Linked DNA regions of Homo sapiens: region 1 is linked to region 2. The links come from fine-mapping of genetic effects on gene expression. A gene starts in region 2. The other region holds a variant in brackets. All regions are shown on one strand. Distances are from middle to middle.

Region 1 (4,393 bases), 48 kb before region 2:
TGGTTCATGCCTGTAATCCCTGCACTTTGGGAGGCTGAGGCAAGCGGATCACCTGAGGCCGGGAGTTCAAGACCAGCCTGATCAACGTGGAGAAACCCCAACTCTACTAAAAGTATAAAATTAGCTGGGTGTGGTGGCTCATGCCTGTAATCCCAGCTACTTGGGAGGCTGAGGCAGGAGAATCACTTGAACCTGGGAGGCAGAGGTTGTGGTGAGCCAAGATCGTGCCATTGCACTCCAGCCTGGGCAACAAGAGCGAAACTCCGTCTCAAAAAAAAAAAAAAAAAAAGTGACGTTGAAAATCTTAGATACTAACCTAAAAATGTGCAAGATGGTCCATAAACTTTTTAATATTCCTCTATGTTGTTATGGGAACAAAAATGTTTGAGACCACTGCTTTTTGAGGACCAAATGTTTGATCTCCTGTTCTGTGAGCTACTCCCAGGCCTCTCGGTAACTCTTCCTTCTGGCCAGAGTCAGCCACAGGGGCTTTCAGTTGATGACAACCAAAGGGGCCCAAATGCCTTAGGACCCAATGACAAGTTTGTTTTCTTAATCATAATTACTTGTTATAGTGTAGAAATACAATTTTATTTGCTGTTTTTTGTTTTGTTTTGGTTGGTTTGAGATGGAGTCTCACTTTGTCACCCAAGCTGGAGTGCAGTTGGGCGATCTCGGCTCACTGCAATCTCCACCTCCTGGGTTCAAGCTATTCTCTGGCCTCAGCTTCCCAAGTAGCTGGGATTATAGGCATAAGCCACCATGCCCGGCTAATTTTTATATTTTTTTAGTAGAGGTGGGCTTTCGCCATGTTGGCCAGGCTGATCTCAAACTCCTGACCTCAAATGATCCACCTGTTTTGGCCTCCCAAAGTGCTGGGATCACAGGCTTGAGCTACTGTGCCTGGCCTAAAATACTTTTTAATACAAGATTTTGCAGAATTAGTAGAATTGAAATATAAGTAATATGTCAATTTTTACATTATTCCCTTTTCTTCTTGTGGGCAGGAAAGGGTGCGGGTGGGCAGGGAGGCCTGTTGGGTGGCTGTTGACCTCTAGGAGAGAGCTGTCTACCCAGGTGAGACAAGGGCAATAGCGGGGAAGGCAGCGAGAAGCAGTCAGACTCTGCATTATCCCACTTCCTAACGGATTGGATGTAGGGTACAAGAGAAAGGAAGAGTCCAGAATGACTCCAGAGTGATATGTTCTAATATGTTGCTTTAAACATGCCAAAAAAGAGTTCCTCCCTGCTACATTCTTACTAATTCCAGGGCTTTGGAGTCACTTTTATAGACGGCAGCTTTGAAACATAAAGAAGAAGCAACACGAGGCTGGCAGGATGGTTCTTGGAGCTCTACTTGGTTGCATGTTCACCCTGAGACTTTAAGGAAAGAAACACAAAAACCACAGGACCCAGCTGGGTGCAGTGGCTCACACCAGTAATCCCAGCACTTTAGGAGGCCAAGGCAGGCAGATCACTTGAGGTCAGGAGTTTGAGACCAGCCCGGCCAACATGATGAAACCCCGTCTCTACTAAAAATACAAAAAATTAGCCGAGTGGGGTGGTGCACACCTGTAATTCCAGCTACTCTGGAGGTTAAGGTGGGAGGATCACTTGAACCCAGGAGGCGAGGGTGCAGTGAGCCGAGATGGTGCCATTGCACTCCAGCCTGGGCGACAGGGCAAGACTCCATCTCAAAAAAAAAAAAAAAAAAAAAAACCACAGGACTGAACTGAAGTGAATGTGATCTTGACAAGCGGCCAGATCATTCTCTTTTGTGAGAAATATCTCTGCCTAAAGTGAACATAAAATAAAGGCCATAACCAACATCAAGGTGTGTCAGAAACCCATTCATTTGACTTTGAACAGGCTACTTTTTAAAAAGTCTTTTTTTTTTCAACCAGCCAAACAGAGAGGAAGTTCAACTATGAACCAGATTACAAAATCGTCTGAAGCTGTAACAGTGAAAACTACTTCAGGGAAGAAAAAGAGAAAAAAAGGTATTTTTTCTGTTGT[C/T]GTTTCAACTGTTCCTTCCACTTCCCTCATCTTCTAAATCACTTCCTTCTTTCATGAGCTGTGTGTTCCACTACTAAGTAGTTGCACCAAACAGAGAAAAACTCAAGTGGAGAAAAAAGAACACTCAATGTCTTGTGACTTCATGTAAACCAAACACCAAATGGCTTTGCCACGGCCATCAGAGGAATTCATCTTTGACATATTCAACACTCCAAAAAAAAAAAAAGAGTAATGGGGCCTCAGCTGGTTTGGGAATATCTCTGCAATGAACAGCCTGTGGAATCTGATCAATTCAGCTCACAGACTTCCATCCTATGATTTTTACTTAGAATCAGCAACTGTGTAATCTAGAAGGAATTTGAAGAAATCAACAACTCCGTAACCTCTGAACTGGGTTAGACTATATGAGAAGCTATCTAAGTATTAAAGATGGGCAGCTAAGCATTAGGGACCCAGATTCTATCCCTGACACTTCCACTAATGTCTGGCTCTCAGAATCCTCTTCTGCAAAATGAGAACTTTTCACTCACAGGATCCTAAATTCCACCCCAGCTTTACCATTTTGAAATTCTAAAGAGACAACGCAAGATTATCACTGCGTGGTCATGAACACAGTCTTTGGGAAGCTCCTTGTGGAGGCTAATCTAAATTTGTGTTGTTCTGTTTTAGTCCGTTTCATGTTTTTCTCTACCATGAGTCTGGGGGAGGGCAACTGGCCCTTATAATGAAGCTTGTCACCTTTTGGCTTTCTCTTCTTCAATATTCATCTGTTTTTCTGCAGTCGTTTTCTGTCCTGGAAATTATCCTTATAACTCCTCCATGAAATATCATTGAATTAGAAAATTACAAATTCTTATGATCCAAAATGTCAAATGAAAATGTAAAGTAAGAAAATTCATCAGACTGGCCAGGTGTGGTGGCTCAAGCCTATAATCCCAGCACTTTGGGAGGCCGAAGCAGGCAGATAACCTGAGGTCAGGAGTTCGAGACCAGCTTGGCCAACATGGTGAAACCCCTTCTCTACTAAAAAAAATACAAAAAAAATTAGCTGGGCATAGTGGCAGGTGCCTGTAATCCCAGTGACTCAGGAGGCTGAGGTAGGAGAATCGCTTGAACCCAGGAGGGAGAGGTTGCAGTGAGCCAAGATTGCACCATTGCACTCCAGCCTGGATGACAAGAGCAAAACTCTATCTCAAAAAAAAAAAAAAAGAAAATTCATCAGACTGTCTCTGTTATCTGATATTGGCTAATAAAGGCTATTAATATAGCTTTTCCACTGGGCAGAGCTAGTTTTGGAAAGTCTATTAAAGGAAGGAAAAAAAAGAATCAAGTGAGGTTATCATTTGTTTTTGACAGTGTCTTAGTCAGTTTGGGCTGCTAGAATAGAATACAATAAAGTGAGTGGCTCAAATAGCAAACATTTATTCCCCACAGTTCTGCAGGCTGAGAAGTCCAAGATGAAGGCACTAGAGGATTCAATGTCTGGAGAGGGCTGCTTCATAGATGGCCATTTTTTTCCAGTGTTCTCTCATGGTGGGAAGAAGGCTAGAGAGCTCCCTGGGATCTCTTTCCTAAAAGTACTGTGAACCCAGGAAATCTGAGACAGGTCTCAGTTAATTTAGAAAGTTTATTTTGCCAACACTTGGGTAGGTAGTGGAAAATTACAGTCAAAGGGGGTTGTTCTCTTGTGGGCAAGGGCGAGGGTCACAAGGTGCTCAGTTGGGGAGCTTCTGAGCCAGGAGTAGGAATTTCACAAGGTAATGTCATCAGTTACAGCAGGAACCGGCCATTTTCACTTCTTAGAAGGAGCATTTGTCATATAGAATGATTGGTGATGGCCTGGATACAGTTTTGTATGAATTGAGAAACTAAACGGAAGACACAAGGTCCAAATAAGAGAGGGAGAAAAACAGGTATTAAAGGATTAAGAATTGGGAGGACCCAGGACATTCAATTAGAGAGTGCCCAAGGGGGTTCAGCATAATTACTTGCTTGGTTGGCGAGTTTTTGGGCTTTATCCTTCAGTTTTTTATGTTGTCATATATCAGGCCAGATTGATTTAGGTAAAAACAACACTCTTCATTTACAAATATGCAGCGTCCTCCTTTTTCAGCAGTGAGTAAGTCGAGGCCTATTCCTGTCTTCTTATATTCATAATAAAAAAAACAAAACAAAATAGTATTGAAGTGCTGGTGTCATGAGGGGAACAGGAAGCTGTTTGGTCCTATTTGCAAATTGAATTTTGTGAGTAAGGAAAAGTAGTGTGCATGTGCCTGTCCAATTAGCAGGTAAACACATGTAGGTGGAGGATCCACAGAGGAAGAAGAGACCTTTTGTAAGGCAAAACTGGAAATGTAAAGTGAAAAGATGAGGAGAA
Region 2 (4,393 bases):
TGAACCAAAGGAAGGTAATCACAGGGGACCCGTTGGCCCCACCACGCCTGAACAGCTGCTGCAGCCTGAACTTTCTGCCTCACTCCTGCTTTCCTTTCTCCCCATGCATGCTTGCTTGTTGCACTGAACTCTGGCGCATCACTCATTCCTGTTCTTTTTGTCAGGAGAAAAAGTTCTCCTGACATGCAGTGTGTCAAAACTGTACTCATCTCCTCCACCTGCCTTCCCACTTCCCGCCCCTATGCTCCCTCCTGGCTTCTATTTTAAATTTCATTGCAGCAGACACCTCTCTCCAGATTTCATGCCTCAGCAAGGGCACATACCATTCCTCCAGCGAAACCATTCTTTTCCTTTTCACCATTTCATCCTTTTGACTTTCAAACTTCTCACCAACTGGGTGCGTTTTATCCTCCTCTGGTGCCAGCCTTCCTTCTTTGTTAGATACCTAGCATTTACAGCCATCTCTAGGCAGATGTGTGGTCGTTCAGTAAGAAGAGAACACATGTTTTGTGTGCTCACTCCAATGGGTGTCTGGCTTATAAAGTAGGTGTGGTCCAATTCCTGTCTGCTGCCACCATTGTGCCCTGCTCTGGCCAACAGCTCAGAGAGGTTTGCTCTCTCCACTGGCCCTGAAGACCTCCCATGTTCCCCCAGTTCAAACTTCACCTCTCTCATGAGGCTTTCCCTCACTGCATCCTCTACCTCTCTCATGAGGCTTTCCCTCACTGCATCCTCTACTCTCTCATGAGGCTTTCCCTCACTGCATCCTCTACCTCTCTCATGAGGCTTTCCCTCACTGCATCCTGTACCCTCACAGCCCTTAACACACCACTCAACAAATACGCATTTGCATCTAACCAAATGTGACCCTGTGTCCATATTTATGTTTCTGTATATTAATGCATTCTTGTTTCCCCTGCCAGGCTCCATTAGTCTGGTTAGCTTTTGCCCAGGTATCAGGAAATGAGGGGATGGGGAGAGGCTCAGAATCCAAACTTGACAGAGTAGCTGTCCACCACTAGGTGATGGTGGGGTCAGGCATCTCCTTAGGCTGGCTGTGCTTCTGTTTTCTTTTCAATGGAGATACCGGCTTTCTTGGAAACACATGTGATGGTGGGCTAGCCGTAGAAGCACTACTATAATAACGATGTGATCTTTGTCATTTCACTTCTTCAGACCTCATTAGTCCTACATATAAAAAGAGGAAGTTAAACTAGCTCAAATGTACTGAGCAGAAGGAATGGAGACTGTGCAGCTGAGGGAGCGGGGCCTGAAAAATAAGTGTGGGTTGTGTCGCCACACACCGGGACTCCTGGGATCCCGACCTCTTTTAGCGGTCAAAAGAGGGCAAACTAGTTGCCTAACAATATTTAGAGCTATTTCTCTCTTTTCACTCTCATTCTACGAGTGTACACCGGAGTTTCTAGCAACTACATGGTATGTGAAGTCATCCCTCTAATGATAACCTGTAATGAGGTTACTACTGTGATTTTTAATGAATACATTTTAAAATGTTTTAATTTCTTCAAAAGCAAACATTAATCTCTACATATGTGTGTATACATATACAGGAAATGTATGTATATATGAATATACATATATTCATTGTATATGTGTATATATATTCATACATAATATGTGTGTGTGTATATATATATATATTTACACATTTCCTACATAAATAAAAGTTCTTTAAGGTCCTAATAATTTTTAAGTGAAAAGGAGTCCTGGGACCAAAAAGTTTTGAGAATCACTGAACCAGATTTCTAGATCTTTAAGATCATTTATTCACTCAACAAATAATTGTGCCTCCTGTGGCCAGGCATTTTGCAGATACGGAGGATAATGTGGTGATAGCAACATGTTTCCTGCTCTGATAGAGTTTTACATTTGGGAGGGAAGAGACAAACGAATAAATTAACAAGATAATTTCTGAGAGCAGTAGGTTTAATGAAGCCGTAAAGCAGGACACATATCCCTGCACAATCTGTGCGCCTGCTCAGACGTAACACCCCGCAGCGCAGCAGGCAGATTCAGCGGCGTCGCCCCATAAGGGCCCGAGCCCTCTCAGTTGGCCTAGGACGGCGAGGGCGGGGCCTGCCCGCCCCCCTGGCGCTGGCGTCAGGTGACGTCACTGTGCCGCGCCAGCCAATCGTGGGCAGCCGGGGTCTAGGCACCACGGTGGCTGGCGGCCTGCGGGCGGCGCTGTGGCCCGTCGGGCGGCTCCACAGAGCCGCCCTAGCCTTCCGCCTTCCCCAAGCCAACGTCTCCGCCGTCGGCTCCGCGGCGCCGCCATGGCCGACGTGGAAGACGGAGAGGAAACCTGCGCCCTGGCCTCTCACTCCGGGAGCTCAGGCTCCAAGTCGGGAGGCGACAAGATGTTCTCCCTCAAGAAGTGGAACGCGGTGGCCATGTGGAGCTGGGACGTGGAGTGCGATACGTGCGCCATCTGCAGGGTCCAGGTGATGGGTAAGCGCTGCACGCGAGTCCAGGGCCGCCCTGCGGCCTCCGGGAGCCGACCTCGGGGTTGGGAAGGGACGGGCGTCCGTCAGAAGCCTCGGAAAGTGCCCTGCCTGGGAGAGTGGGTGGAGGTCGCCCTGCCCCGGCGCCGGAGGAACGCGGAGCCACGCTCCTGCTGCGGCTCCTGAGGGCTGCGGCCGCCGCCTGGGGCTGCGGGGTTGTGCAACAGGCGCCCTGCGCCGGGTGGTTGGTGTTCTAGGGAGAGAGACGGGCAATAAACGGAGTTAAACAAGGTAATTTCAGGTAGTGATGGGTGTGACCAAGAAAGTAAAACCGGGTGATTGTTGGGAACTAGCAGGAAACACTTCGGTTTGTGTGTCCAGCCCCAGCCCCACCTCTAAAAGCTCAACACAAGGTGGTCAGGGTAAAGGCCGTGATTCAGCAGTGAACTTTAATAGTCTTGGTCACCACCAAAGTGATGCTCCAGAGTCATCTTCCACAAAACGACACCCTTAGTTCTCCTCGAGGGACGCAGGAAAGTGTTCATAGCCATTGCATTTCCGGATTAGCTTACCGCCGCTCTTCGAATGGCTTTTAAATCTGGATTGATTTAAGACGGGTCAGATAGCACTAGCGTGGCTTGAAGGGAACAGTGTGGTTCAAGAATATCTAAGTTTCATGGAAGCTGAAGAATTGTAAGCCCTTTTTTCAGAAACGTAAAACTTCACCTCCATCACACCCCCCTCTCCATATTGGATGCCATTTCCTGGAGAAGATACTGTGCTGCTCTGAGTCATGCCTTTGTGGAGAACCCTCTTACAAATATGTCTTCTTTCTGTGATATTTTGAGTTAAAATATTAGACCAAGTGAAACTTTTCAGAACAGCTTAATCTTGTTATATTTTATATGGTTCTAAGAACTCAGACCACTTTGAAAAGCAGGTGCTATTTAAATGCAAGTTGTATTTTCAGATAGGGCATTTAAAATTACTATGAGACCCTCTTCAGTGGAATTCTTTATTGAGGGTAGTTAAAGAAAACGGACATTTCTATCGTTTGAAAACTGTGACTTGTCTTGAAAAATGAGAGAATTGGAGAACATACAGAGAATTGCTCACCTTAAGGGGGGTGAGACTGTAAACATACCAGAATCAAGAGATTTCGCAGTTTATGCTCTTTTGTCTTTTATTCCTAAGGGCTTGTTTCAAAGAGGATTTACAACAATTGGATTCAGATATTTTTATCTTTCTCTTTTGAAAGACCTTGATATTAGACATGACCCACTTATTTTACATGGATCACTTGAGCCCAGGAGTTTGAGACCAGCCTAGGCAACATCGCAGGACCCTGTCTGTACAATTAAAAATTAAAATAAAAAGCTGACCAGGCATGGTGGCCTCCAGCTACTCTGGAGGCTGAGGTGGGAGGATCCCTTGAGCCCAGGAGGTCGAGGCTACAGTGAGCCTTGTTCCTGCCACTGCCACTGCCACTATACTCCAGCTTGGGTGACAGAATGAGACCCTGTCTCAGCAACAAACAAACAAAACATATGAGGCTTTAAAAGTATCTAGTTTATTTGCCAGCAATACAGCTGCCCCTACCCCCACTTAGGAATCATAATTTCTAGTTTGGGAAGCATTTTTAACTGATCCAGGAGACTCTTTTTTTTTTTTTTTAAGACAAGTTTCGCTAAACATTTTATCTCCTAAATAAATTTCCTTTAGTTTAAAGGAAACTAAGCTTTCACTTAGTTCCTTTCCAGTTTAAAAATAATGTTCCCAAAGGGTATTTTCAAAAGATTTGTCTCCCAAAAAGCTATTTCCTCCCCAAAGGAAAAACATTTAAAGAGTAAGTGGAAATGTATAACCTGAAATAATGATTGAAACTTTGCAACAAATAAACTTTACTGAGAGATTTTAATGTAGGTCAAAGT

The links. PIP is the estimated chance that this variant, and not a neighbour inherited with it, causes the effect.
Region 1: its variant is the best candidate, but not a certain one, in a credible set for the expression of RNF7 in whole blood (GTEx, PIP 0.89).

Annotation. Positions count from the first base shown.
Region 1 is chr3:141,688,528-141,692,920 of GRCh38, forward strand. It overlaps the pseudogene LRRC78P. Among named protein-coding and RNA genes, the nearest start is that of RNF7, 48 kb to the right of the region's middle. The variant C/T (reference allele first, on the strand shown) is at 2,017.
Region 2 is chr3:141,736,048-141,740,440 of GRCh38, forward strand. It overlaps RNF7 (ring finger protein 7), which reads left to right and starts at 2,251. Exons shown (of 3, transcript NM_014245.5): 1 at 2,251-2,469. The coding sequence starts at 2,295. RefSeq lists enhancers at 1,794-1,843, 1,884-1,933, 2,044-2,723, 2,284-2,523, 2,724-3,402 and silencers at 2,024-2,283, 2,544-2,723.